Linked DNA regions of Homo sapiens. The protein of the gene in region 3 purifies or fractionates together with the protein of the main gene of each other region. This does not show direct contact. Each region holds a gene or a part of one and is shown on either strand. Other genes may lie near its edges.

What was found.
Region 1: the proteins of POLD1 (region 3) and KIRREL1 purify together in Homo sapiens (affinity purification with mass spectrometry, with the first as the bait; one large-scale study listed by BioGRID). This does not show direct contact.
Region 2: the proteins of POLD1 (region 3) and GRK3 purify together in Homo sapiens (affinity purification with mass spectrometry, with the first as the bait; one large-scale study listed by BioGRID). This does not show direct contact.
Region 4: the proteins of POLD1 (region 3) and KIF16B purify together in Homo sapiens (affinity purification with mass spectrometry, with the first as the bait; one large-scale study listed by BioGRID). This does not show direct contact.
Region 5: the proteins of POLD1 (region 3) and RFC1 fractionate together in Homo sapiens (co-fractionation; one large-scale study listed by BioGRID). This does not show direct contact.
Region 6: the proteins of POLD1 (region 3) and HNRNPUL1 purify together in Homo sapiens (affinity purification with mass spectrometry, with the first as the bait; one large-scale study listed by BioGRID). This does not show direct contact.
Region 7: the proteins of POLD1 (region 3) and TPR purify together in Homo sapiens (affinity purification with mass spectrometry, with the first as the bait; one large-scale study listed by BioGRID). This does not show direct contact.

What each region holds. Positions count from the first base shown.
Region 1 is NC_000001.11:157,992,153-157,996,754, reverse strand, and holds the start of KIRREL1 (kin of IRRE-like protein 1 isoform 1 precursor), read right to left. Parts: upstream 3,111-4,602; 5' UTR 3,079-3,110; coding exon 3,027-3,078; intron 1-3,026. UniProt on the Homo sapiens protein: Required for proper function of the glomerular filtration barrier. It is involved in the maintenance of a stable podocyte architecture with interdigitating foot processes connected by specialized cell-cell junctions, known as the slit diaphragm.
Region 2 is NC_000022.11:25,717,785-25,721,808, reverse strand, and holds part of GRK3 (G protein-coupled receptor kinase 3), read right to left. Parts: intron 3,565-4,024; coding exon 3,428-3,564; intron 526-3,427; coding exon 412-525; intron 1-411.
Region 3 is NC_000019.10:50,400,978-50,405,001, forward strand, and holds part of POLD1 (DNA polymerase delta catalytic subunit), read left to right. Parts: intron 1-800; coding exon 801-947; intron 948-1,021; coding exon 1,022-1,147; intron 1,148-1,227; coding exon 1,228-1,396; intron 1,397-1,476; coding exon 1,477-1,558; intron 1,559-1,634; coding exon 1,635-1,764; intron 1,765-2,075; coding exon 2,076-2,242; intron 2,243-2,515; coding exon 2,516-2,620; intron 2,621-4,024. UniProt on the Homo sapiens protein: As the catalytic component of the trimeric (Pol-delta3 complex) and tetrameric DNA polymerase delta complexes (Pol-delta4 complex), plays a crucial role in high fidelity genome replication, including in lagging strand synthesis, and repair.
Region 4 is NC_000020.11:16,500,214-16,504,237, forward strand, and holds part of KIF16B (kinesin-like protein KIF16B), read right to left. Parts: intron 1-4,024. UniProt on the Homo sapiens protein: Plus end-directed microtubule-dependent motor protein involved in endosome transport and receptor recycling and degradation.
Region 5 is NC_000004.12:39,356,249-39,360,272, forward strand, and holds part of RFC1 (replication factor C subunit 1), read right to left. Parts: intron 1-4,024. UniProt on the Homo sapiens protein: Subunit of the replication factor C (RFC) complex which acts during elongation of primed DNA templates by DNA polymerases delta and epsilon, and is necessary for ATP-dependent loading of proliferating cell nuclear antigen (PCNA) onto primed DNA.
Region 6 is NC_000019.10:41,262,782-41,267,513, reverse strand, and holds the start of HNRNPUL1 (heterogeneous nuclear ribonucleoprotein U-like protein 1), read right to left. Parts: upstream 3,143-4,732; 5' UTR 3,011-3,142; coding exon 2,716-3,010; intron 2,650-2,715; exon of another isoform or gene 2,632-2,649; intron 2,434-2,631; exon of another isoform or gene 2,199-2,433; coding exon of another isoform or gene 2,171-2,198; intron 1-2,170.
Region 7 is NC_000001.11:186,368,491-186,372,514, forward strand, and holds part of TPR (nucleoprotein TPR), read right to left. Parts: intron 2,554-4,024; coding exon 2,480-2,553; intron 1-2,479.

The DNA.
Region 1 (4,602 bases), on a different chromosome or scaffold from region 3:
TGTCTCCCCTGACTCTTCCCCAACCTCAGCGCCCTGCTCTGGGCAGAAGTGGGACATCTAAAGTGTGTATATGTGTCTATGTGTAGCACCGAAAGGGGAGAGTCCAGTTACTCTCCAGACCTGCTGTTCTCTGCCAGGATTCAGCTGTACTCAGGGAGTTGAATCCTGGGAATTTAGGAGGCCCTCGGGCCTCCTCCCTTTACCCTTTACTCCCCTCAAAAGCTGTGGCAGGAATGCCAGGGGGAGCTCTGGGGGCTGGGTGGGCTTATTTTTCTCCTGCCCCCACATCCATCCCCCCCACGGAGGCAGCTCCCTCCCCGAGCCGGCCTGTCATCCCACATTGCTCTGATTAGCTATAATCTTTCTTTTTCAATTTCTCCTCCCCGAGACTAGGGAGCGAGAAAATCTCCCAGAAAATGAATAAATATTTCAATTTTCGGCGCAATCAGTCTGTGGAGCCGGCGCATGATGGAAACGGGGGGAAGGATAATGGTTTTCATTTAGATAAGATACAGAAAATTATTTAGTGAAAAATGAAGATTGATGAAGCCCATTGAAATTCTTTAAAATGCGATTTTTATTTCTCAGCCTAGGCTGAATCTCCCCTTCCCCTCTCCTCTCTGCTCCCCTCAATTCTATGGCTTCCTGCTGACACCTACTCCCCCATCCCTATTCCCCCACCATCATTCCTCCTCCCTTTTGTAGCGCCCCCCTCCGTTTCCTCTCTCACTGCCCCAGTCCCTGACCTAGAGCTCCTTTCTGAGGATGGAGGCTAAGGAAAGGGGGTCCTGCCAAGCTCTCCACCCCCATGTGTGTCCCAGTCTCCCCAGACCCCTACTCCTTCCCTCTCTGCCTCCTCCCCAGTCCCTTGCCAAGCTTCCCCCAACACTCACTAGTGATTTCCCCTCCCCTCCTGTCTAGTCTCTCCCTTTCTTTTCTCTGGTATCCTCTCCCCCAACCCCAGACACTTTCACCAGGTCCTGCTTTCACCCCTGTTGGAGCAGAGAAGTGGGAGCTCAGCATTCCCTAGCCACTCGCTCCTTTCCAAAGAGAGAAAGGCACACAACACACAATTCTTTCTGTCCCCAATTCAATCCACATGTCTCTCCTGTTTGCTAACTGCTGCTTTTGTTCCTTAACACTCATTTGTATCCATGATGCTGACATGTAAGGGCTGTAAGAAAGGGACAGACATAAGCTTGCCCCCAACATAGACCAATACTGACCCAGGGGCCTCCTCCACCACCAACATGACCCCCCTCCACCACCACCATGGCCCACCCCCTTCCTCCCCGACACCAACAGCCTGGCTGAACAAAGTCAGAACTTAAGTCATCTTCCCAACTTTCTGCCAAGTGGCTGGCCTGGCCTGCCAACCCCAGGGCCAGGCCTCCTCCTTTCCCCTAGCACCACCTCCCACTCCTGGCTCACACCACAGATGTGTGCCCTTCCCATATCATAGTGTGTGCTGGGGGGCTGGCATGGGTGCCCTGTGGGGAGAAATGAATCAAGACGTGCCCCCACCAACTCAGCCAGGCTTTGCCTTCGGAACTGGGAAGAGACCCGACAAGGAGAGGAAAGGTCCAGCATAACACACCACCTACAAACGCAGGAAGGGAACAGAAAGCAGGGCAATAATGCCTGAGGCTGTTCTACCCAGATCCATTCCCAGACACCCCCTAAAAGAGGACACCTCCTCCATCTGCAGTCTGTACATCTCCATAGGTGTCTGCCCATATGAATGTCTGTTCAAGTTTCTTTGTTTGCTAGAGGGTTGGTTTCTGTGAGAGCGTGTGTCCTGTCCTTGTAAACGCCTGCATACATGTACTGTGTATAGTTGTAACGTTCGGGTGGATGAATGCGTGAGTGTGTGCCGATCTGGGGGAGGAATCTGTCTTCCTCAGATGTCTCCGTGTCTTTGTGTATATGTGTCTGTCTCAGTGTGGGGGATGTTTGTGGGGATGTCTCTCTCTCAGTAGGTGAGTAGTCTGTCTCAGTGTCTGTGAGTGTTTTACGGTGTTTGTGTGTCAATTTCTGTGTGTCAGCTCCATTTTTGGGGAGGGAAGGAGTTCAGCAGGATTCAGTCTTCCTTAGAGTCAGACCTGGGAGGCAAGAACCAACTCCCACAGACCCCAGTCCCTGCTGCAGTCTGGACCCTTGGTTCCCTCAGCCCTCTTCCCTCCCCCAACCCCAGCCCTGCCCAGGATACACTGACATCCTCATCTCTCCCAACCACCTCCCTCACCTCCCAGCCTCTCCCCTGCCAGTGTCAAATAAGCCCCAGACAGCAACACTTTCCTGAGCCCAAGTAGAGTGTCAGCCCCCTCCCCCCACCGCCTCTGCCCCCGCCCCCGTGAGTTCCCCCCCTCTGTATCAAGCGGGCCTGAAGCTGTATGTGGAACTCCACTCTCCACCCAGAGCCTCCGTGGGCAGGGGTTCCAAATCCCCACTAGAGGCGCCGAGACACCCCTCCCTTCCTCTAGAGGGGGCAGCCCCAGGCAGGCTGGAGCCGTGATTCAGACTCAGACCCCCGAGGGGCTGGGCTGGAGTAGGGGGATCCCCTTGGCAACATCTTCGGGAGGTGGGACCCAGCTTTTCGCTCACCCCCTCGCCCGAAATCCGAAATCCCACCCTCTTCCCAGCCTTGCCCTTAGGCTGGACTCAGGCGTCCGGAACCCCGGCCTCAGAGGGCGAGGGTCGGTAGGGCTGCCAGAAGCTCAAGAGAAAGCGTTCGGTTCCCCGTTTTACTCGGACCTCCAGCCCTCGCGGCCCCATTGCTCGGTTCTCCCGCGCAGCCAGAGGAAACAACTTGGGCAAATCAACGGCAAACTCATTCTCCCCAGCCCCTCGTTACTCCGCGCCCCCTCCCCCAGGGCTCTGCGCCCGGACCGAGCCCCCGCCTCGTGGCGTCCGGACCCGGGGACTGGCCGCGGGCCGCGGGGCACTCCAGCACTCTCCCACCGGGGAAGCAGTGCCCCGGCCCCGGGGGGAAGCCGAGCGTCCGGGGGTGGGCTGGGGGCCCTTACCTTGGGAGAAAGTATCGGAGAGAGTGAGGATCCAGACGAGGAGGCTCAGCATGCTGTCCGCCCGCCGTGCGCCCGCCCGCGGCTGGGGCCCGGAGTTGGCGAGCGAGCCAGAGGAGCGGGCTGGGGAGGAGGGGAGCCCGGGAGCCCGGGAGCCCGCCCCCCGCCCGCCCGCGCCCGCCCCTGCACACACACACGCGCGCGCGCACACTCACGCGCACAAACTCATTTCCCTGCCCTCCGATTCTCTTTATCTCTCTTTCCTCCCAGACCTTTTTCTCCTCCTGGTCGCCCTCCCCCTTTAATTATTTCTCCTCTCAAGCTGTATCTCTCTGGGTCTCTTTCGGTCTTTGCTCCCCCTTTCTCTCCCCTTCTCTTCCTTCCCTCTCTCCCTCCCTGCCTCCCTGCCTGCCTGCCTCCCTCCCTCCGCCTGACGTCTACTCTCCCTCCGACGGCGCCTCCCTCCACGAGCCCTCCCCCTGCCCCCCCACAACGCGCGCACACACATACCCCCCTCGCTGGAACTGAGATGGAAGGAGAGCAAAGAGGGAAAGGAATTGAGGGCAAAGGCAAAAGGGGGTGAAAAATGTGACCGTCGTGGGTTCTGGGGCAGGCACGACGGGACCCCTGGCCACCCCACCCCCTCCTATTTATAGACGCAATCTTGGTCGCGGGCTATGGAACTAAGCAGTGGAGGAGGAACATGGGCTGAGGGACATCAGCCTCTAGCTCAGAGGATGTGATGGGGAGTGTGTGTGTGTGTGTGTGTGTGTGTGTGTTTCCGTGTGTGTGTCTAGGAGTGGGGTGGGGGGCAGGGAGTTAAATAAACATAAAGACCTTTCTTTTTAAATTCCACACCCAAAGTCTAGCCCCTAGATTCCCCAAATTAAGAATTCTCAATTGACTAATGAATGCTTGGATAAGGGAGGGGCATACATGCCTCTCCCCACCTATAAAACCCAGAACTGGAGAATGGGAGCTGCCTCTTGGACCTGCCTTGAGGCCCTGCCTTGGCTTCACCCAGTCAAGGTTGAGCACAGCTAGGCGTTGGAGGACTCAGCGGCCTGGAAGAGGCACAGTTGACCCTTCCTTTGTTCATCTTAGCCTTCCACCCATCCCGAAGGAGAAGGTAGCCAACTGGATGGCTTTGAAGGGCCAAGACCTGGCCTCACCTCCCTGAATGCAAGCCAGAGGAGAAGACAGCCACCAGTCAGATCTCTAAGCACGCTGGAGTTTGAGATCTTTTGGGGTAGGGACATGGAGGAACTAGGAAGGAAGGGAATTCCTGAGAATCATGAGAGCATTCAGGAGGGATCTCCACTTTCTTAAGGGCCCAGTTTGGCAACCAGCTCCTCTTCTCACCCCTGACCAGATACTTCTGCTCACAGGATTGCTCGGGTAGCCAGAGGTCTGGACCCTAGGGAATGGACAGAGAAGTTGCTGGAATTGCACAATTTTACAGTAATGTGTTGGTCCAAAGAGGTCTCCACTTCTTTCCTCCCAGATCCCAGATCTCCTGGGTCTCTAACACTCCCCGCCAAGTTTTCTCAATTTCTGCCCCTGAAAGTAGGTGCGTGGC
Region 2 (4,024 bases), on a different chromosome or scaffold from region 3:
ATGAAATTTGTGTTACAATGTAACTTTGAGGAAAAGATGGCATTTTCGTTTAGAGAAGATGGCATTTCAGTTTGCCGTCTTATATTTATCTAAATATATAAACCTTAACATCGAACATGCCGAAAAATCTTCAAAGTTATAGAACAAATAAAATTCCAGCCCTATTAAATACTGAGCAGATTTTCCAGATAGAGTAATGACATTATTTCACCTGCATCCTCCTGCCATTTTCTAATATTTGCCTTTTTAAAAAATCACGATGAATTTGCTGAAAACCTTGTACCTTGGGGCTTTCTTACTAAGTTTGTAAGTGATAAAACATGGCATAAGAAAATGTTTTATAGACAGGCAGTCAACTTTGCTGAATATTTAATTATTCTAACATTCACCTAAGAAAAAATAAAAACTCACCTCACATTGCAAGACAAATTGTTTCCCTCCTTTTATTCTGAACAAAATGCATTTTTTGTCTTTAATTTGAGTTTCTTCCACAGAGAGAATCTGTTCCATTGTCAGTAAATTTTGCTAACCATAAAAACAGAAATTTAAAATTCAAATTATTTTGTGATTTCTTAAGTAGTAATACCAAAAACTACCAAGTTAGAACAAGTAAAAAAAGAAAACACATTCGGTTTTCTTTCTTTGATGGTATTCTAGAAGTAAGGGGAAAATGGCTATAAAGGAACACAAACAAAAGTTCAAATTATAATGTTTCAAGGAAAACTGCAGAGAAAGCAATGTTTTGCTAGGGAAAAACGGCAAAGCTGTTCCCTCAACACAGAACTGATTTTGAATGATGATGAATCGCAAGCCTACTTGCTGTATGGCACACTCATATACATTCTGTCAATAACATTGTGAGGAAGCAACAGAGCCACATATGATTTATGTGAGCCAAAGGTGTGTGGTTCAGTTTTAAGGCAGCAACTCAGTAAATGTTTACTGATGTCAGCTTGTAAGCTAACAATATTTTGATAGTATCCCAATGATGTCATAAATAGAGGTGGTTTCATTAAAAGATTAAAAGGTCTATAGGCTGGGCGCGGTGGCTCATGCCTGTAATCCCAGCACTTTGGGAGGCCGAGGCGGGTGCATCACGAGGTCAAGAGCTCGAGACCAACCTGGCCAAGATGGTGAAACCCCGTCTCTACTAAAAATACAAAAATTAGCCGGGCGTGGTAGCGGGCTCCTGTAGTCCCAGCTACTCGGGAGGCTGAGGCAGGAGAATCGCTTGAACGCAGGAGGTGGAGGTTGCAGTGAGCCAAGATCGCGCCACTGCACTCCAGCCTGGGCGACAGAGCAAGACTCTGTCTCAAAAAAAAAAAAAAAAAAAAAAAAAAAGTCTATAGTATTATTCCTTAAAGTGAATGCTATAGTGTCATGAGTTCCTTAGCGTCTTACGGTTTTTGTTTTAAATAAATACTTCAGGAATCCTGAATGAGAAATGGCACTCTGATAAACACTCAGGTTTTCTTTTTCCTTACTTAGACTTACAAATCTGCTCATGCATATTATGTAGCTTCTTAAATAGAACACTAAATGTTGAACCTTTTAAAACCAAGCTCATTTATTGCATCCAATGTTAAACAAAGGTAAAAGTTTTGTTTTTTTAAGTTTTCAAACAGCCTGAAAAGTGGGGTGATTTCCTTTTAACATGCCAGTGGGTAGCATAATAAATGTATAATCTGCCCAGGTCCGCTCATTACCTGGAAATACAGTGAGCTTTGGGGAGCTACTCTGATGCTTCCCAGCCCTGAGTTACACTTCAGGTCCCCAAAAGGATCTTATTAATTGGAACTTAGATCCTAGATTCTAATTTTTCAAAAATAACTTCGATGGCAGGAGTGATGGTTGGGAAGATCTTCTTTCTTTTCAAAGAAATGGAGTGATATGCAATTGTAATCATTCATAATTGAATGAAAACTTTGCTAACAGTAAACTAAAAATACAGTCCAAAGTCAAATACATGAGATTTAGGTGCCCTGTTTTCCACACTTCTGATCTCTGGAGAACAGATGGGTGGTATTCCAACATATCCAACACATAAACAATGTTTTGAGTGTTTGGGACCATCGTCCTGCTTACGATGACTCACCAGGCCCCCCCCCCACCCCACCAAGAAAAGAAAAGATGCCTTCCACCAGGGTTGGCTCCTTCCTTGTTGACAAGCCCTGGGCTCTTCACCCAGTAGGCACTTAATAAATGCTGCCTGATTTGCTGAAAGGTAGTGCGGATCAGAAATTTCTTTTTATCTTGTTCACAAACATTAGCTCTCGAAAGGATCTTAGAGGGCAGCTACATCTTGCTGTCTGTTGTATGATCCACCTACAAATTCTCAACAAGGTGGAGACACAAGGAAGCATCTTTTGGTGACCTCATCTCTGTGCCAAGTGTCATGGCCTGGGACATTTTATTTGACCCAACTAGGAGAGGCCGTACAATGGAGAGACTGAGGGCACAGGATGACCTGGTCTGAGTCACCCTTCCACCTCCTAACTGTCCAGTTGTGTTTTTGGGTGGCAGACTTTCCTCTTCTAAGCCTGCTTTCCTCTTTATAAAATGAGAGTTGGACCCTCAAAGGTTCCCAAACACATGGAGTTTTTTTTTTTTTTAACAGCACTTGACCTCAGATAAACATGCAAAAATTACAGTACAGTCATCCCTTAGTATCCACAGGGGACTGGTTCCAGGAACCCCTGAGTAGCATAATAAATGTATAATCTGCCCAGGTCCAAATTATACAAAATCCACAGATGCTCAAGTTGCTGATATAAAATGGTATCGTATTTGCATATAACCTTCACACATCCTCCTGTATACTCTAAATCACCTCTAACGTAAATGCTATGTAAACAGTCGTTAGACTGTGTTGTTTTTTTTCTGTATTAGTTTTTATTGTTTTGTTGTTATTTTAAATTTCTTTTTCCCGCATATTTTCTCTCCTTGGTTGTTTGAATCCCAGGATGGGGATCTGTGGATATGGAGGGCTGACTGCAGTTGTTATGATTTCTATTTCCCTCATTTCACAGATGAGAAAACGGAGGCTGAGAGAGTCAATGTGACGTGTTCAAAGTCCCAGAGACACTCAGCAGTGGAGCTGAACACCTCTGTCTGACTTCAAAGTCCAGCTTGTCTTTTCTTTTTAGATCTGTCTAACTGCTCTCCAGCCTTCTTCAAATCCATCTGATGATGTGGTGCTTCTGACCTCACTAAAAAGCATGTTCTATTTTCAGGTATTACCAAGTTGTTCCTTGACTTGGAAGTTTAAAAACAAGTTAAAGTTTGCACATTACAATCTCATGTAGAGCAGTAAAATAGAATCACAGAGTTTCGGAGGATAGTGTATAAAACATGTCAGCAACATGAAATAACCATATGCCATTGTACGTACTGGGAAACATGCTCGGTGAGGCTGCCTTAGACTTACCCGGGACTCTCCCTCTCCTCTCCATTCAAGTCTATTTGGAAAGAGGTAAAAATAGCGACGCTGCCACTGAGTCAGAAATGGGTTTCCCAGTTTCAGCATGTACCCGTGCATAATACAGTCCTTCCCCAGAGCGTAATCTGAGGAATACAAAATCACTAGGAGTTAAATAGGCTCTGAAACAAAATGTCTTAGCAGCATTATTCTCTGAAAAAAGAACAGACATGCTTTTTGGAAAAAGCAGGTTTCTATAAATAGAACGCATTACAGAAGTCACGATTTTAGTTTTAAGTGCATGTGTACTGGGGATCTAAAGATCAGAGGGTTCTGCAGCTCTCTCTGCTCACACAGTAAATGATTGCTTCTCAATATGCTGATAAATCCATGATGTTCATTTATTGCTCTGGGAGGGCAAAAGTTAGTTTCCAAACTCTTTTCATTATGTGTAATGAGAACCGGAGAATAGACGGTATTTAAAGTCAAGCTATCCCCAAAGTACCTTCGCCTTTACGTGGGGTTGGGATTCCCCCTTTAATCTCCCTTTTATCTTAAAAATAATAATAGTGGGAATTTTCTTGTCTAAGTAATTTAAGGTAACAT
Region 3 (4,024 bases):
GAGCCACCGCGCCCGGCCTGGCTAACTTTTAAAAATATACTTTTGGGCCCGGCATGGTGGCTCACTTTTGGAGGCTGAGGCAGGCTGATCACTTGAGGACAGGAGTTCAAGACCAGCCTGGCCAACATGGTGAAACCCCGTCTCTACTAAAAATTCAAAAAATTAGCCAGGTGTGGTGGCATGGGCCTGTAATCTCAGCTGTTCAGGTGGCTGAGGCACAAGAATCCTTTCAACCTGGGAGGTGGTTGAAATATAAATATAAGATATATATATATGATATATTCTTTATGTATTAATTTATGTATAACATATATTATATATTAATATATTTTGTAGAGACAAATATATTTATTTGTACATATAATATGTGTGTGTATTTGTGTATATGTGTATATATATATATATATATATATATTTTTTTTTTTTTTTTTTTTTTTTCTTTTTTTTGAGACTGGGTCTCGCTCTTTTGCCCAGGCTGGTCTCAAAGTCCTGGGCTCTAGCGATCCTCCCGCCTTGGCCTCACAAAGCACTGGAATCACAGGTGTGAGTCACTGTGCACGGCCAGTTGTTTTTATCTTGTAATAAAAAAGAAGGGCCTCCCTGTAGTTGTGCTGTGGAGAATGGATCCTGGGGGATGAGGCTGGAGATGGGAACCAGGGGGGAGGCTGAAATGGACACAGGGAACGGTACAGGGGCAGGAGTGCCCCAGGCTGCAGGCCCCAAGGTATTTCGAGGCTGTGGAGACACACCTTGGAGGACCCTGAGAGGCATGGCCGCTGTCTTACCCTGTGACCCCACAGGCCCAGCGCAGCCTGTGCCTGGGGGGCCCCCACCATCCCGCGGCTCCGTGCCTGTGCTCCGCGCCTTCGGGGTCACCGATGAGGGGTTCTCTGTCTGCTGCCACATCCACGGCTTCGCTCCCTACTTCTACACCCCAGCGCCCCCTGGTGAGTGGCCCCTACCCAGCCCCTCCCTGAGCCACTGGAGCCCCCTGCACCTCTGATCATCCCTCCCACACCAGGTTTCGGGCCCGAGCACATGGGTGACCTGCAACGGGAGCTGAACTTGGCCATCAGCCGGGACAGTCGCGGGGGGAGGGAGCTGACTGGGCCGGCCGTGCTGGCTGTGGAACTGTGCTCCCGAGAGAGTGAGTGCTCCCCCAGGATCAGCGGGTTGGAGGGTCCCCTCGGGAGGCCATTGGCTGGTCCCAGCTTCTTCCATCCACAGGCATGTTTGGGTACCACGGGCACGGCCCCTCCCCGTTCCTGCGCATCACCGTGGCGCTGCCGCGCCTCGTGGCCCCGGCCCGCCGTCTCCTGGAACAGGGCATCCGTGTGGCAGGCCTGGGCACGCCCAGCTTCGCGCCCTACGAGGCCAACGTCGACTTTGAGATCCGGTACGGCCTCTGCCTCACTTCTCCGGCCTCTATCCCCACCCTCGGGCAGCCCCTGTCCACTGACCCCCAGCCCCCTCCAGGTTCATGGTGGACACGGACATCGTCGGCTGCAACTGGCTGGAGCTCCCAGCTGGGAAATACGCCCTGAGGCTGAAGGAGAAGGTGCAGGGCTTCCCAGGGCAGGGCTGGGTGGGGAGCTGGTACCCTGCTGCCACCGCTGACCCACCCATGCCCACAGGCTACGCAGTGCCAGCTGGAGGCGGACGTGCTGTGGTCTGACGTGGTCAGTCACCCACCGGAAGGGCCATGGCAGCGCATTGCGCCCTTGCGCGTGCTCAGCTTCGATATCGAGTGCGCCGGCCGCAAAGGTCTGTCCCCGGGCCCGGGCTCCTGCCCGCCTCATTGATGTGCCAAGTCGGGGGTCGGAAAGGCAGGTCCGGTGGAGGGAATGGCAAGCATGAAGGTGCCGGGGCAGGAGCACCCCAGCCCATGTGGCCAGATGGAGTGAGCACAGAGGGTGTGGAGATGGCCTGGAGGTGAGAGCAGAGCAGGAGCCAGGGTGAGCCACGTAGGGCCGGCAGGCAGCGGGGACAGCCCCGGGGAGATGGCAGGTGCAGCCTCCCTGCTGTGTTGGGAGTGAGGGGCAGGAGTCAGGCCCCTGCATCCTCCTGCCTCGCAGGCATCTTCCCTGAGCCTGAGCGGGACCCTGTCATCCAGATCTGCTCGCTGGGCCTGCGCTGGGGGGAGCCGGAGCCCTTCCTACGCCTGGCGCTCACCCTGCGGCCCTGTGCCCCCATCCTGGGTGCCAAGGTGCAGAGCTACGAGAAGGAGGAGGACCTGCTGCAGGTAGCTCTCGCTCCACGCCCCACACCATTTCCCGGGGTCCCCGCCAGCCTCCGCGTCCTGAGCCATCAGCTCCTGGGTGCTGCGACGCCCATGTCTGTGGGTCTGGGTGGGTGTCTGTGGGTCTGGGTGGGCCCCTGTGCAATTAGGCTTGAGCACTTCCCCTCTGGGTTCTGCAGGATTTTCAGGGGTGGCTGGGGTTCTAGAACATTCTGGAAGTAGGGGAATCCGAGGCAGGGCAACCACCAGGGTGACCCAATGTGCTCCCACCCCCAGGCCTGGTCCACCTTCATCCGTATCATGGACCCCGACGTGATCACCGGTTACAACATCCAGAACTTCGACCTTCCGTACCTCATCTCTCGGGCCCAGACCCTCAAGGTGAGGGCTGGGCAGGTGGGAGGCTTCTCTCAGATGCCCCAGGTGTGGCCTCCGGGCCCTGGGCCTCCTTCCCACTCCCTCTCCACATGGCTTGGTGCATCTTGCTCTGTGTGCCTCAGCCGATTGCCTGCAGGGGCAGCCTAGGCCTGGTCCTGCCCTGCTCCAAGTCGAAAAAGTTACTGTGGCTTTTATCAGAGGCAAGGAGGGCGTTACGGTGGAGTAAGAGAAGGCTGTGCATTCAAGGTCGGCCTGAAGCTTGCAGGGGTTCAACAAGCCATGAAGCAGCCACTGAATCCCAGTCTTCCTTTAGGTTATATCAGCATAAGGAAAAGAATCATAATGGAGGAGGAGGGGGGAGTGTGTTGACTGATGGGGCAAATTCCGGATGCTTCTTGAGTCTGCATGTGTGTAAGGGTGGATTCCTCTGCCCGAGTTGCTGTAACAAAGAGCCACAGACCAGGTGGCTGAAAACAGCAAAAAGTCATTGTCTCACCGTCCTGAAGGCTGGAAAGTCCATGACCAAAGTGTCAGCGGGCCTGCTTCCTTCGGGGGCTGCAAGGGAGGACTGGTTCACGGCCTCTCTCCTTGGCTTGCAGACGGCCATCATCCCCCTGTGCCTCTTCACACCGTCTTCTCTCTGTGCGTGTCTGTTTCCACATGTCCTCCCTTTTTTTTTTTTTTCCAAGACAAAGTCTCGCTCTGTCGCCCAGGCTGGAGTGCAGTGGCGCAATCTTGGCTCACTGCAAACTCCGCCTCCCAGGTTCATGCCATTCTCCTGCCTCAGCCTCCCAAGTAGCTGGGACTACAGGCGCCCGCCACCACGCCTGGCTAATTTTTTGTGTTTTTAGTAGAGACGGGGTTTCACTGTGTTAGCGAGGATGGTCTTGATCTCCTGACCTTGTGATCCGTCTGCCTCGGCCTCCCAAAGTGTTGGGATTATAGGCGTGAGCTACTGCACCCAACCCCTTTTCTCTTTCTTTTTTTTTTTTTTTTTTTTTTGAGACAGAGTCTCGCTGTGTCGCCCAGGCTGGAGTGCGATGGCACGATCGAGGCTCACTGCAACCTCCACCTCCCAGGTTCAAGCGATTCTCCTGCCTCAGCCTCCCAAGTAGCTGGGATTACAGGCGTGAGCCACCACGCCCCGCAAATTTTTGCTTTTTTGTTATTGTTTCTTGAGATGGAATTTCGCTCTTGTTGCCCAGGCTGGAGTGCAATGGCACGATCTTGGCTCACCACAACCTCCGCCTCCCAGGGGGCGCTGGGGTGTAGAAGTGATTCTCCTGCCTCAGCCTCCCAAGTAGCTGGGATTATAGGCACCCGCTTCCATGCCCGACTAATTTTGTATTTTTAGTAGACAGGGTTTCTCCATGTTGGCCAGGCTGGTCTCGAACTCCCAATCTCAGG
Region 4 (4,024 bases), on a different chromosome or scaffold from region 3:
TCTTAAAATCTGCATTTATTGTATTTCAATGACATTGAATATACTTTCACATGTACAGAAAGCATTTGAAACTCTATTTCTATGGATTGTGTTCACGTCCTTTGCCCCCTTTCCTGCTGTGTTATGATGTTGTCTTATGTTTTCAATGAACCTCCTTTCCTAACATAAAAGGTAGTCTTTTGTTGCATGATCAGCAATCTTTTCCCTGGTCTGTATTGGTTAGAGCAAATTTTCATTATGTTATATAAATATGCTATGTTCTTACTTTTGTCTATGTGAGCTTTCACAGAATGAGAAAGAAGAGTTAAAATTTTCTGTGACAAATGTGTGTGGCTTTGTCTCCTGCTATTTCGAACAGTTTTGTTGTTTTTTTCAATTACGAAAGTTGATATCATGTCTGATTTTAATTGTTAGTTGCACCCTTTGTCGTGATAAAGTGCTCTTTTTTAAAGCTCACACAATGCTGTTTCTGCACCGCTTTCTTTCCTCTTGAATTCACTGGTTTGTCCATTCTTACAAACACCATATAATTGAGTTTTACTTTGTGACCCTATCTGAGATGTGTCTTCTTTAAAAGTTTACACATGATACTTTTATTATTTAAAATTTATCTTTAACCTCAGCTACAAGAGTGAGTAATTCATTCTACTTTCATCTTCCCTTTCCCATCATCTTCTTTGCTTCCCACCTTTGGTTGTGTTTTTCATTTCTATACTGTTTGATTTACTTGTTGTCTCCAGATACATTCAAGAGAGATGAGGAAGTCAAGAGACATTTTCTCTCTGCCAAATTAAATGCAGAAATAGCTGAAAATACATTTAAATATAATAAAAGAGAATAAAACCTTTAAAAAAGAAGATATTCAAATACTCAGCTTCATCAATCGCCTGAGAAGCACAAAGTAAAATTATTCTATGATTCTGGTATATATCCATTAGGATGGTTACAATGAAAACTGTACATTATCAAGTGTTGCAATACCAAGAATTGAACCAGCACTTTTATACACTGATGGTGGTCTATTAACTGGCACAACTACTTTTATACACCAAGAATTGAATTCTTGGTTCAATACCAAGAATTGAATTCTTGGTTCAATACCAAGAATTGAATTCTTGGTTCAATACCAAGAATTGAATTCTTGGTTCAATACCAAGAATTTAACCGGCACTTCTATACACTGATGGTGGTCTATTAACTGGCACAACTACTTTTAGAAAATTGCTTGGCAATATCTACTAAAACTGAACATATGTACTCCTCTGACTCACCAATTCCACTTGTAGACATAAATCTAACAGAAATGTATCCATATGTTCACTAAAAACATCTAGAGGAAAGTCTACAAAGCAGTAACAGCCCGAAATAGGAAACCCCTCAAATGCCCATCTAAAGTACAATGGACAAATGAGCTGGAATATCTTTGCATGATGGAAGACAACTTTGCAGTGAGGATAAATGGATCCACTACTACATGCAACAGCATGGGTGACTCTCACAAACATAATGTTGACTGAAAGAAGTGAGATCAAAAGAGTGAATATTTTTCATTATTTCATTTATATAAAGAACAAAAACAGGCAAAAATAAAAACTAACAAAGCCTGTAGAGGTCAGGAGAGTGGCTACCCTGGAGAGAAAGGGGAGTAGTTCCTGAAAAGAAGGATTAAGGGGGGCTTCAAGGATACTGGTACTGTACTGTCTCTTAAGAAGCAGGTTAGATGGGTGAATTTAGCTTATGAAAACTCACTGAACTATACACATATAACTTGCAATTTTGGGGGATAATACGTCAATAAAAAATTCAAATATATAAACTACTACATATATCTACATATCTAGATCTACATAGTAGAAGAATCAAATACATGTCAAAACCTTTTGCTTTACTAAAAAGGTGCTTTAAAAACTCTGATGCACATGACTTTTTGCAATGGGAAAGACAGAAAATTATTAAAAGTAGAAGTTGATTTTTATTTAGCTGTGCTTAAAAAAAATAACCCTAGAAATGGAACTCAGATTTGAATAACATTCTCAATGAACCACAGCAGTACCTGGTATAGAATATTCTAGGAATAGAGCAATACTCCCAGAAAAATGTATACAGAGATGTTTAATGGACATTTAAGAACACCTGCTGTTTTTATTAAGCTTCATAAATTTAATTAATTTAGGATAAGCCTATATTGTCTCAAAACAATTTACAGCTTCATAGCACGATAAATTATTTTAAATTGGATTCACATTTTTATTGTAATATATTGTATATCAAAAATTTTATCTGCAATGCGTTCTGAAATAGACTTAACTGTCTTTTATATCCTCACCCCCAAAATTACAGCAACAAAAATACTCCCTTAAACACAGCAGTGGTAATAAGTCATAAAAGGAAAAGGAAAAAAGACTACAAAATATAAGGCAACTATATGGCATAACAATACCTCTGAAGGCATTTTTCAGAGAGAAAATGTAAAGTTTCAATAAATTAAAGGTTTTTAATCTATATAAGATTCCTTCCAATGATGTCCTCAGTTAATTTTAAAAAGATAATATTTTTACCCTTCATTCTTTTAACCTAATAAAAGGTTAAGCACAAGAAACTGCACATAGAATTTTCCAAATACTTCCTTCACATATAGTAATTTGAGTGATCCAATCAAATCATCATTAAAGGCTTACTTTATATAAACAATGTTTTAAAAACACTGAGAAAGATGCCAGGCTGGGCGCGGTGGCTCACACCTGTAATCCCAACACTTTGGGAGGCCAAGGCGGGCAGATCACTTGAGGTCAGGAGTTCCAGACCAGACTGGTCACGTCGTGAAACCCCGTCTCTACCAAAAATACAAAAAAATTAGCCAGGCATGGTGGCAGGCACCTCCCAGCTACTCAGGAGGCTGAGGCATGAGAATTACTTGAACCCTGGAGGTGGAGGTTGCAGTGAGCCCAGATTGCATCACTGCACTCCAGCCTGGGCAACACAGTGAGACTCTATCTCAAAAAGAAAAGAAAAGAAAAAGATTCCAATAACAAGGTGTATAAATAAAAATGACTATTGTGGTTCATGTTATAAGGGCCTCATCACGTGGAGCTGGACTCTTCATTCTGACAACTTCCACCATAGAGCAAAATGCATGTGGAGATATTTTTAAGCACAATGAACAATTCCTATTCAACTGCTGTCCACCATCTTGTGGGAAAGAACTGCCAGGTACATTTCAGGACACAGGAAATTCAGTGAGGTTTTCATCCCATCAGTATTTTCAAAACATTTATGGGATGCCAAGAGCTTCAAGTGCCACATAATCCCACGTGGAAAGCACTGCTCCAACGGGACCACTCTGCACATAAAGAAAAGCATTTCTTTTCACGATATACTTAAGACATCCATTCATGAGTTAAGAAAGGAGGGTAACTCCAGTCTAACTTCAACATTTAAAAAAGCTATCCTTCATTTTCTTTCAAGGGTTGCCTTTCTTCACAGCAATATCAAAGCCTACCAGAACTTTACTTCCACCAATCATCACGGAATGTAACTCTGTACATACACCATGCAGACTATCAGGAAGCTTACTGAGAAAATCACAAAGACAAGGAATCTTCACTAGAATCCCAACAGATCCTAAAATGAGACTATTTCAACAATCAAGCGAGGGCCCAGGGACAGCATTTCAGCCAGATCACAGGTGTAATATACATGTGTCGCGGGGCCACCAGAACCACCTCTCTAATAGGTGATATGACACAGGCATTCAGAAAGGTGTTCAAACAAGTCTTTTATTCTGTTAAAACACATTTTAAAGTCATAAAATGCATGGGTGAAATTTTAAATACTATTCTAAGCATATCAATTTCTTTCCACTTAAAGAGATTATGCCATTAATCCTATTGCATAGTACATTTCCATTCATAATTGATAACTATTAGAGAGTTAATCATTTCAGGTTTAGTGGATAAAATCTTACACATGCAGCCCGTAATGAATGCAAAGGCTGACAAGAGGTTGATGTAAACGAGGGACTGGC
Region 5 (4,024 bases), on a different chromosome or scaffold from region 3:
ATTAGCCGAGCTTGGTGGTACGTGCCTGTAATCCCAGCTACTCAGGAGGCTGAGGCAGGAGAACGGCTTGAGCCCGGGAAGTGGAGGGTGCAGTGGACCAAGATCACGCCACTGCACTCCAGCCTGGGGAAAAAGTGCAAAACTCCGTCTTAAAAACAAAAAAATTCATTGAACACATGAACGGTTATTCCTCAGGCCACTGACCTTCACAACTGCACTCAGAAAGAGAGGTTCTTGATTATGTAAACCAAAATAAATGGTAGATTTGTTTTTAAAGATTATGTATTAAAAGAATCTTTTAATTGGGATTAACTTTGTGCTATGACTTTACCTAAGAAATTTTAAGAAGGTATTAAATTAATGCTGATTATATATTATTTCTGAGCTAAGTTAATAAAACTGAGTTTCTATAATTGATTTTCTGTTACTCTCATATTAAAACATTGTGGCTACAAAAAACAAAAATATACTTTCACTTTTAGTAGGACATTTCCTCTTCTTTAAAATTTATTTTAAGTCAAACTAATAACTTTTTTAAAGAAATCAGAAATATCTCTAGATTTATAATTGATGTTACTAATTTAACAGTCTAGCATGGGTCTCAAAAACTTCTCTGAGGAAAACACTGGTGAGTGAAATATAAGTGTGGTCTGAAAAACTTTTGAACAGTAACAAGTTCTAGCTAGGAAGAATTTTAAGAGCCCGCATCAACTTTTTTCATTCAATCATTCATTTATCCATTCAAGAAATATTTACTCAGAGCCTTTTATGGACCAAGAACTATTTTTGATGCTTGGGATAAACAAAACAGGCTAGGTCTCTGTTCTTGTGAAGCTTTCATTCTACTTTCTGTTCCTAATCTTTCTTTAATCCATCTTTAGAAAACAAAGCAGAGCACAGAAAAGAAAGAACAGAAGAAATAAAGCACACTGAGGGAACAGAAATAGAGAATAGAAACTACTTCCCCTACTCACCCCAGTATCTGTTAAGTCTACCTGAGAGGCCACTCCCATGACAGCAAAAAGACCCATTTCTACTGCTGTTGTGGCAAGAGGGAAGAATAAGATTCTGAAGTCATAATATTTACTATCATTGAGCTTTAGACTACGCATTCAATGAAATACTCTATCACAGAAGTTTCCAGGTACCTGATCCAAAAATACAAATCAACACAGGCATATTAAAATAGCAAATGGAAATAATTATCTAATTTAAGTTTAAAAAGCATCTTTTCATACCTGCATAACTGGGATAACTAAAGCATTTGAGACTGTTTATGCCTGATCTAATGGTTTATTTCAGAATTTTGACATTTTCACCAGGGCTAATGTACTCCGATTATGGTTTTTATTCATCCAGGAGCTAACTTTTTTTTTTTTTTCCCTTGAGACAGAGTCTTGCACTGTCGCCCAGGCTGGAGTGCAGTGGGGCGATTTCAGCTCACTGCAACCTCCAACTCCCAGGTTCATGCAGTTGTCCTGCCTCAGCCTCCCAAGTAGCTGGGATTACAGGTGCCCATCACCATACCCAGCTAATTTTTCTGTATTTTTAGTAGGGACAGGGTTTCACTATGTTGGCCAGGCTGGTCTCAAACTCCTGACCTCATGATCCACCTCCCAAAGTGCCAGGATTACAGGCATGAGCCACAGCGCCCGGCCCAGAAGCTAGCTTTTTACAACTGACTTCTGAGCCAAAAAAATCAAATTTAAACTACTTAAATGAACACAGAAATAAAGTCCAACTGGGCCAAGCGCAGTGGCTCACACCTGTAATCCCAGCACTTTGGGAGGCCAAGGCGGGTGGATCACCTGAGGTTGGGAGTTCGAGACCAGCCTGACCAACATGGAGAAACCCTGTCTCTACTTAAAAATACAAAAATAGCCAGGCATGGTGGTGCACACCTGTAATCCCAGCTACTAGGGAGGCTGAGACAGGAGAATCACTTCAACCTGGGAGGCAGAGGTTGCAGTGAGCTGAGATCGCACCATTGCACTCCAGCCTGGCCAAGAGCAAAATTCCGTTTCAAAAAAAAAGAAATTAAGTCCAAACTGAAAATAGACCTACAACATAATAAAATAACTGTATTTCTCTAGGCAATATTATTTGTCGCTAAGTGTTTTAATAGCTTAGATATAAAGTCATGCAACAGTGCGAGAGATGTTTTTATACCAGGAAGTTTTACCTTCTAGTTTATTTGTATTTTTAGTGGAAATATAAAGTTCACTTGTAATTATTCATTCCTCTAATATTTGTGGAAAACGCACCGTGAGCCACGCGCTATATGGCAGTTCCCTCTCCTTGTGACCCCTGCCCTTACAGAGCTTATATGCTAGTGAAGGAAGTTGTCAACACCTGCAACAAGTTGCTCATTTATTAAAATAAGCCAAAATGTGTGCCAAGGAAACAAAGCAGGTGCTCTCCCACTAATCATGCCAATTGTTTTTATGCTTTTGTGGATGAAAGCTACACATATTTTCCACGGAAATACGAAAAAACAAACATATGCACAAAACTTTGTATCCAATGTTAGGGGTTTTCCCCTAAAGCCTATTGGGAACCCCAAGTCAAAACTCCGGAACCACACACTCACACTGTGCGAACTAACTCACACCTACTTAACCCCAGTACCACTTATGTACATACCGATACTTCCTAAATCTTGTGTCTGTTTCTCCAGACCAGCTCTGAATTCCATATTTATGCAGCCAACATGCAGCCAAATCCATCCCATTGCAAATCTCCCAAAGGTGCCTCTAACTAATAATGTCCTCAACTAAATTTATCTTCAGCTGGGACCTGCTTCTCTCCCTTTATTCCCCATCTCCATGCATAGCACCACCATTCACCCAAAACAGAAACATGGCCACTGCTTTTCCTCCTCCCTCTGGCCCTCCACCTAATCATCCAACCTAAACGATCTCCCAAATACTGCTGTCTTCTCCCCTCTATTCCCACTGCCACTGCCTTGATTCAGGACTTCTTTTGTTTACTTAACACAACTTTCTAGAGGCCTCACTCTGTGCCATGCAATGATTTGAGCACTTTTAAAATATAAAGTCATTCAGCCCATCAATCAACAAGTAGATAAAGAAACTGTGGGAGATATATATATACAATGGAATACTACTCAATCATAAAAAGGAATGAATTAATGGCATTCGCAGCAACCCAGATGGGACTGGAAACTATTATTCTAAGTGAAGTAACTCAGGAATGGAAAACCAAACATTGTATATTCTCACTCACCCATAAGTGGGAGCTAAGCTATGAGGATGCAAAGGCATAAGAATAATACAATACGTGGTCGCTCAAGCCTGTAATCCCAGCACTTTAGGAGGCCGAGGCGGGTGGATCATGAGGTCAGGAGATCGAGACCATCATGGCTAACACGGTGAAACCCCATCTCTACTAAAAATACAAAAAATTAGCCAGGCATGGTGGCGGGCGCCTGTAGTCCCAGCTACTCAGGAGGCTGAGGCAGGAGAATGGCATGAACCCGGGAGGCGGACCTTGCAGTGAGCCAAGATTGCGCCACTGCACTCCAGCCTGGGTGACAGAGCGAGACTCTGTCTCAAAAAAAAAAAAAAAAGAATAATACAGTGGACTCTGGGGAGTCAGGGAAACGGTGGGAAGGAAGTGAGGGATAAAAGACTACAAACTGGATTCATACCTACTACTTGGGTGATGGGTGCACCAAAATCTCACAAATCGCCACTAAAGAACTTACTCATGTAACCAAATACCACCTGTTCCCCAAAAACCCATGGAAATAAAAAATTTAAAAATAATAATAAATAAATAAAAATGAAGGCAACACAAAAATGTTTTCTTTTTTTGGCCGGGTGCAGTGGCTGACACCTTAACTGCAGCACTTTGGGAGGCCAAGGTGAGTGGATCGTTTCAGGTCAGGAGTTTGAGACCAGCCTGGCCAACGTGGTGAAACCCCATCACTACTAAAAATACAAAAATCGGCCAGGTGCGGTGGCTCACCCCTGTAATCCCAGCACTTTGGGAGGCCAAGGCG
Region 6 (4,732 bases), 9.1 Mb from region 3:
GGTTGAAGGAGGGCTTAAGGGAGGCATGAAGGGGGCTCAAAGGACTTTGTTGTAGCAAGTAAGGGAGAGAGGAAGAAATAGCATTATCTCCTTAATTGGAATATGGGGCCCTTTCAAACTATTCTGCTGCTTCCAGGCTCCAAGCACAATGCTCCTCTTCCCACAAAGCCTCTTTTCCCCAGCATCTCTCTCCTGTGTTCACAGAGGCAGCCCCTCCTGGAGAAGCTATAATTCTAGGGTCCTTCTCCATTCTCTAAAACATCCCTCTTCTCATAAAAGGCAGGCCCAGTGATAAGCCCTTCACATGTGATCTCATTCATAACACCCCTCAGGGGTTGGAGGGGCTGTGAACACACTATTTGTTGATTAACCCCATTTTACACATTAAGGAAACCAGGCCCACAGAGGTGAAGTGACTTGCCAATATCTTTAAGCCAGATTTGAAACGAAGTCTGTCTTAGTCTAGAGTCTACGCTCCAAAGCACCTAATTCGCTTTCCTCTCAGAGATGACTCTCTGCCCAGACCACCAGGTCACTACTAACCCACTACCCTTTCTTGCTAGGCATTCCTGCCACGATCCCTCCTGCTCTAGACACACACACAGGCCCACTCCTTTCTTCACAAGTCTCTGCAATGGGAAGTCCTCTTTCCAGCACCTGGGTCCTCGATAATCTCTAGGCCACTGCCTACCCCAAATCCACACTCCTCCCTCCGGGAAATTCTCTTATGAACAAGTATCCAATTCCAACCCCAAATCCTGTCTCTTCTGTTACCTCATTTCTCTCCTTATCCCCTTAGCCCCAAGTCCCAGGGTGCCCTCTTTTCAGAAAAACTCCACAAACTCTTACGCCAGAATCCCTTCTACTTACTCCTTAACCTTTCCAGTCCCCCCATTTCCCAGTCCTACTAGAAAGCTGCCCTGAGGCCTGGTGCAGTGATTCACGCCTGTAATCCCAGCACTTCAGGAGGCCGAGGTGAGATCACCTGAACCCAGGAGTTCAAGACCACCCTGGGCAACATAGCGAGACCCCCCATCTGTATTTAAAAAAAAGAGAAAGAAAGCTGCTTTTTTCTTTTTTGAGACGGAGTTTCACTTTTGTTGCCCAGGCTGGAGTGCAATGGCGTAATCTCGGCTGACTGCAACCTCCCCCTCCCAAGTTCAAGCGATTCTCCTGCCTCAGCCTCCCGAGTAGCTGGGACTACAGGCGCACACCACCAGATCCGGTTAATATTTGTATTTTTAGTAGAGACAGGGTTTCACTATGCTGGCCAGACTGGTCTTGAACTCCTGACCTCGTGATCCGCCCGCCTCGGCCTCCCAAAGTGCTGGAATAACAGGCGTGAGCCACTGCACTCGGCCCGAAAGCTGCTTTTTTTCTAACTGAAGATTCACGCCGTCCCATATCAGGTTTTCCTCTCCTCAGACAACCGCAGGTCTACCCGAACCCATTCCCAGAGTCACAGCTCCTGGCTGATGAAGAGTTCCGTGCTGCTCCCCGAGGGCCCCCACTCCCTGGGTACACAAATAACTGCTTCTGGGAACCGTCGAGATTTCTCCTGGAGACGCTCAGGTCCAGAAACATTCCCCACACTCCACTCTGAGGCCTCCAGTGAAGTCAACAGGTTTCTTTCTCTTTGCTCCCTACGGCCTCCCCCCTCCCCATATTCGCTAAGCCAGATACGTACTCCTGTGCTGGACACAGGATCCTCTGTCTCCCGCCACATATTTCATCCACTTGGAATGTTACCAACTCATCTGCCCCCATCCCACCCCCAGCTACCCTCTGTTCTCCAAAAACCCCACAGTTAGCTCCAGACCAGTCAGCAGCAGCCTCAAGAGTTATTTGCCCTCAGTTTTCTTAGCTCTAGACCCCCAGATCCTTTGTCCAGGAAAGCATCCTCTCCCCCGCCAGCCTCTGGACACCAGGGCTCCCTATACCTCTTCTAGAAGCCAACCAGAAAGTCCCCAGATCTCCCAGCACCTAATGTCCAGGCTGTGCCTGCTTCAAGGGTGGCCTTCCAGCCCCGGAAGAGAGATGGGGGTGCCCCCTAGTTCAATCTCCCGCAGCCCCTAAATGCTCACTAGCCAAACTCCAAAGCACTGAGTCCATTAGGACCCTCCCCAGCCACAGACACCAGCGCCTCCACCTCTCCCACCCACCCCCGTACCCAAATAGGAGAACGCCCAGGATCGCATCCAGCGGCATATTCCAGGATCCTCCTTCCTCAGAACTCTCGCAGCCCCGCACACCTGGACATTCCTTCCCCACCCTGGAAACACGGCTCCCCACCCCCCAGCCCACACGCTGGGCTAGCACGACCGCCAAGCCCACGGAGCTCCGTACCCTAGGATCCCCATTTTCGAGACCCTCCCCAACCCAAACGGAAAACCTCTTGTTCTTCCGACTCTCTTCGGCTCCAGAAAGCAGTTTCCGGTCTCCGATCCCTACGGTACGGAATCCTCCCCGCCACCCCCGTCCCTCACCTCCGAAACCCAGAGGCCCCTCCCCCAGTGTCCCCCCTGCACTGAGTGTCAGGATCCACCCTCCGGTCGTGCTGGGGCCCTGGTCCCCAGATCCTTTTCGGCGGCGGGTAGCGGGATCCCCCGATCCTCAGGTCGTCTCCCCGACCTCAGGCGCTGGACTCCCGCGTCCCACAGCCCTTTCCTCGGCCCAGGCTCCGGGCTCCCCGGCCCCCGCCCCGCGCACTCTCACAATGTCCGTCCGGCCCCGAGTAGCCGCCGGGCTCCGCGTGCGGCTGCAGCCCGGGCGGCGGTGGCTGCGCGGTCCCCTCCAGCTCGGAGCCCCCCTCGGTCTCGACCTCCTCGTTGATGTGCCCGGGTCGCCCCGGTTCGTCGTCGGCGTCGAGCTCCCGCTCGTCGTCAGGCTCCTCGGCCTCCAACGCCGCCTGCAGCCGCTCAGCAAGCTCGGCCTTGAGGCCTCGAGTGTCCAGGCCGCGGCGCTGCAGCTCCTCGCGAAGTTCGTTCACCTTCAGACGGCGCACATCCATGGCCCGGGCCCCCGGGGTGGCCCCCGAGCCCGGCCCGGCCTCCCAGGGCTCTGTCCCCCTTAAACCTTTCCTGTCAGGAGGCGAAGGGGGAAAGGGGGGGGGCCCACTCCAATGGCGGCAGCGGCTCAAAATGGCCGCCGCCACCGCCTCCCCCCTCACTCGTGCCTCGTCCGATGTTACATGAGTGCCAATTGGTCAGTGCGTGGGGCAACGGGCGCGGGCCCGGAAACCTAGCCAATCAGAGCGCCGTTTTCAAAACAACGGCCACGAGAAGGCCTAGGAGCTACTGGGGAGGAAGCGTTGGCCTACGTCGAAGCCGAGGCCGGAGCGGAGGGCGGGAAAAGGCAGGAGGCGGAGCGCTTGCTGATTGGGTAACTCTCGCGCGCCGGCTGCCGTAAGGTCCAATGAAAATAAGGGAGTAACAATTTGGTCCAATCAACGGTAAGATCTCAGAATGAGTGTCCCACGGCCTTTCCTGCGCAGTCCTTTCATCAAACTAAGTGTCTCTGTAACACACATTCCGATTGGTGTACATCTCCCGCCCCTTGAGGAGTCCGAGCGGGTAAAACCACTAGAACCAATCAAATGGAGGGTCGGCAGAAACCCCTCCTTCCTGTTGCCTTTAAGAAACCGGAAAGAGATGAATTCACCAGGAGCCCGCCCCTTGCCGTTAGGGCGGTTTCAAAACAATCTGCCCACCAATCGCAGTTATTGTCTTAGCTCACTAAAGCTGGTAGCGATGGCTCATTTTAGGAAAAGTTCACCAGATTGGCCGTGCTTCAGAGGACTGCCTCACAAATTTCGCTGTAGGAGGAGGTATACGAAATAGAGATTAAGTGGATACACAGTTCGTAATCTGGAAGGAACCCAGTTGCCTTTAGGAAAAGCAAAATTTTGAGTTGAGAGAGTCCCGAAGGTTTGGCTATAGAAACTAGACTAACAACGGGAGGCAAGTTGTAAAGGACACGGCCTCCCCTTCCCTTGGGTAGTCCGCGGCCGCCTTGCTCTATGGTCGGGTACCTGACGTGGAACGGGCGCTCTGCACGCGACCATAGAGCCTTCCCCTCCCGAAAGACATCCAGAAGTTCACCGACCGCTCTCCCGAATCCTCTAATCGGCTGTTCCCGTAAATCGGGCTGTCTGGCGTCTGTACCGACAAGCTCAACCCCACGGATCCGTCATTAACCTTCGCGCTCAGGAATACAAAAGCCACAGAGCTTCCCAGTGTCTAACGCTGCACCACCTGTCGCCTCTAACTCAAAACAAAACTCGAGTAAGACGCAATCGGGATACATGATGCAGACTCCCACTGCCTCCTGAGCCACACGTTAAGCCCGCAAAAGCCACACACTATCTCTACTCAGACAAAGGCACACCCCGCAGTCGTAAACAAACAGGCGTGCGTCAGATCAGACGCATCCAGTTCTTTTTTTTGTTGTTCTTTTTTTTTTTTTTTTTTTTTTGAGACGGAGTCTCGCTCTTGTTACCCTGGCTGGAGTGCAGGGCCTCTATCTCAGCTCACCGCAACCTCCGCCTCCCGTGTTCAAGCGATTCTCCTGCCTCAGCCTTCCGAGTAGCTGGGATTACAGGTCCCCGCCACCATGCCCGACTAATTTTTGTATTTTTAGTAGAGACGGGGTTTCACCATGTTGGCCAGGCTGGTCTCGAACTCCTGACCTCAAGTGATCCGCCCGCCTCGGCCTCCCAAAGTGCTGGGATTAC
Region 7 (4,024 bases), on a different chromosome or scaffold from region 3:
TCCCACCTACTCAGGAAGCTGAGGTGGGATGATCATTTGAGCCCGGGAGGCAGAGGTTGCAGTGAGCCAAGACTGCATCACTGCACTCTAGCCTGAGTGACAGAGTGAGACCCTGTCTCAAAAACAAAAAACTTGTCAAACTGCTTCCCAGCAAAACAATGGCAATCTACATGTTTTTGAGTTAGAAATATCTATCTCAAGCTACCTATGTCAGAACTGTAGGTTGCCTTTTAATATTCTTGTTTCCTGTGTAGAAGCTTTTTAGTTTGATGTAGTTCCGTTTATTTCTTTTTGCAGCTTGAACTACTGATGTGATCCAAACAATCATTACCAAGGCCAATGTCAAGAACCTTTCCCCTATGTTCACTTCTCTGAGTTTTATGGCTTCAGGTCTTACATTTAGATCTTTCATCCATCTTGGCTTGATTTCGGTATATGATGTAAGCAACACAAACATCCAACATTCATTTCTTCAAATGTGGAAATCCAGTCTTCTCAACACCATTAATGAGGAGACGATCACAACTCCATTGGGTCTTCTTGGCACCCTTGTTGAAATTAGTTGACCATATGTTTGGATTTATTTCTAGGCTCTCTATTCTATTCCATTGGTCACTTTTCTGTTTTTATGTCAGTACTGTACTATTTGGATTACTATAGTTTTATAACAGTTTTCTAAATCATGAAGTATGATGCCTCCAACTTTGTTTTTCTTGCTCAGTACTGCTTTGGTTATTATTCAGGATTTTTAAAACTGATTCCATCAGAATTTCAGAATTTTTTTTTTCTATTTCTGCGAAGAATGCCTTTGGAATTCTGACAGGATTGGCCTGAATCTTTTTACCACTTTATAGTGTGGACATTTTAGCAATATAATTCTTCTTATCTATGAGTATGGTATATCTTTCCCATTATTTGCATCTTCAATTTCTTTCGTCAATGTTATATTATTTTCAGTATATGAATCTTTCACCTCCCAGGTTAAATTTATTCCTAAGTTGTTTTTTGATGGTACTCTAATGAAATCTTTTCTTAATTTCTTTTTCAGCTAGGTCATTGTTTGTGTATAGAAATGCTACTAGATTTTTTAATATTGATTTTGTATCCTTCAATTGTATAAATTCACTTATTAGCTCTGACAGGTTTTTGTGGAATCTTTCAGGTTTTCTACATATAGGATCATATAATCTATAAGTAAAGATAATTTTATTTCTTCCTTTCCAATTTGGGTGCATTTTATTTCCTTTTCTTGTCTGATTGCTCTTGCTGGTACGTCCAGTACTATACTGAATACAAGTGGTGAGTGGGCATCCCAGCCTTGCATTGGATCTTAGTGAAAAAGCTTTCAGTTTCTTTCTTTCAGCCACCAAGCAGTTAAATAAATTCTATTACTTTTTAAGTCACTTCATAGTTTTTTTTTTCTGAAAAATTTTATGTGACTGTGTGCACACTATTTTCCTCGGTTACAGATCCATAGTTTTTACAAGATTTATAAAGATTTTGTGACAGCTCTGCTTCTTTCCAAAAGATTAAGAACCTCCGTATTGGGTTTTATTTCTGGACTGCCTTTTATTCTCTGTACTGATTTTTATATCAGCATTGTAATATTTTAATAACCATAGCTTTATAAAACTTGAATATGTGGCTATGCAAGTACTTAATTTAAATTGATACTTCCTTTTTTTAGAAGCATCCTAGCTATTACTATGTTTTTTTCCCCAATCATCTTTAGAACTACATTAACAAGTTTCTGGCTATCTGACTTGGACTTAAGAGTCAAAATGTATTACCAACACATTAATTTGGAAAACATTTCCATCCAGAAATTTGCAATATCTTCATTTATAAAGGTATATTCTCACAGTTTTCAGAGAAGTATTTGAGTTTTCTTGGGTATTGAGTCATTCTTCATATAAATACATTTCTTACAAAGCCTTTCTAGGTATACTACGAGGCTTTTTTGCGCCTATTCAGATTCTGGAAGTAAATTTTTTTTTCCCTTCAGAAATGTGAAGAAATTATCTTTTAACACCAAATAAAATGCAAATTTTAAAAAAGCAATGGCAAAAGTATAAAGTTGTATCTGGTTAAAAAATAATTGCATGCAACCACTTTAATTAACAAATTTGTCAGCAATCCCTGTGATCATATTCAAACTGTCATTCTTATAAAACTACCCTAAGGAAATGACTACCAATGTGGATTCACCCAAATTCCCAACTGTATCACATTTGATATAATACCTGGACTACAGTCAGCATTCAATAGATAATTTCTGTTGAATAAAAGAGATGTCCAATCTATCAATAAAACATAGATCCAATTAAGGAATTTATATTTACATATTTTTGTTGGTAGCTTCCCCTAATAGGACATCAGTTACATCTTCCCATTGACTAATAACTGATAAACAATCAGAATAGAATGTCCCTTCAAGTAAAATGTCTACAATGAGCTTATTCTAAGAAATATCTCTTACCTGAATGGCAATATTGCGATCCTGAGCAATTTCAAGTTCTTTGTTTTTCTCAGTTAGTGCCTTCAGTTGATTGTCTGGATAAAAGGAATTTTATGAATACATACACATTTGCTTAAAACTTGCAATGAGTGTTTTTATGCAACTGCCAACCTTACATATTTTAATAAATGAAAAAACAGAAGCCCAGAAAGACTGCATTGTACATCACATTCCAAATTCATGAATGCATTCAAAATTTACTGTGTTCTAGACCAAAATTTTAAATATGCTATCCTGTCTCCAAATCAAATGTATAATAATCCTAGCCAACATTTATGGGGAAAGTCACATGCAATTAGTAATTCCTTTATTTTTCAGTGCCATCTTCTAAGTCAACATATATCATAAGAAACAGTGAACTGTACTTAGCAGTAAGAAAATGGAGTTAAAAAGACAGGATCAAGAGAGAAAAAGCATTTAAACTATATAACATGTATATACAGCAAATCACAATAATGAATATTTGCAATTCCTATCATTTATCACTCTAAATAGAGCCTTTAAAGAAAAAACATTATGCTTGATAACGCACTTATCAATCTCTCAATTGCCACTCAAAATGGGCTCTTTTCCCTTACATGCAGTTTCTCTTCTAAACATAGGCTAACTAGAAAAAATATAATTTTTAAAATTTTTCCAAAAATATACATTTTGAAACTGTATTTCACTAAAATACATATGTTGGCAATTTAATAAGCAAATACATTTTAATTAATTCTAATCTTAACTTCTATTTAAAGAGGACCATTAAAGCAAAAAAATCCCCATTAAATGTGTCTAAATTTTCTATTTTGTTTTAATATTATTTACTGCTTTCCAGACTTACTGATCCAGAGTATATAAATACACACACACGCGCGCACACATTAACTGTATACCACAGGAAGGTATCTGATGTATCTGTAGGTTCATCCCTTTTTCTCTTCTCCCAGATCTCGTAAAAGCTGTATTCAGTCATTTTTCTCAAATTCCTCGGCACTACTACTAAACAGATCTTTTTATTATGGCTAGGCAAAACTACATAGATAATGAACCAGATCTAGCTATATATGCTCCATCACACATGTATGCATATACATTACGTTTTTAAAATGAGGTGTACCAAAAGTAGCTGAAAAAAGTTATAACCTAAATAGTTGATGGTCATGGACCCATTAAGAAGGAAAGCTGCAATTTTAATCATTTGATTATGAACTTCCTGTGTTCCTTCTCCATCAATCAAATTAAAATTGAACTATATTAAGTATCAATTAATTATACCAGCCAGACACAGTGGCAATCCCAGCACTTTGGGACGCCGAGGCGGGAGAATCGCTCGAGGCCAGGAGTTCAAGACCAGCCTGGCCAACATGGCGAACCACTGTATCTACTAAAAATACAAAAATTAGCTGGGCCTGGTGGTACATGCCTGTAATTCCAGCTACTCAGGAGGCTGAGGCGCAAGAATCGCTTGAACCCAAGAGGCAGAGGTTGCAGAGAGCCAAGATTGCACCACTGCATTCCAGC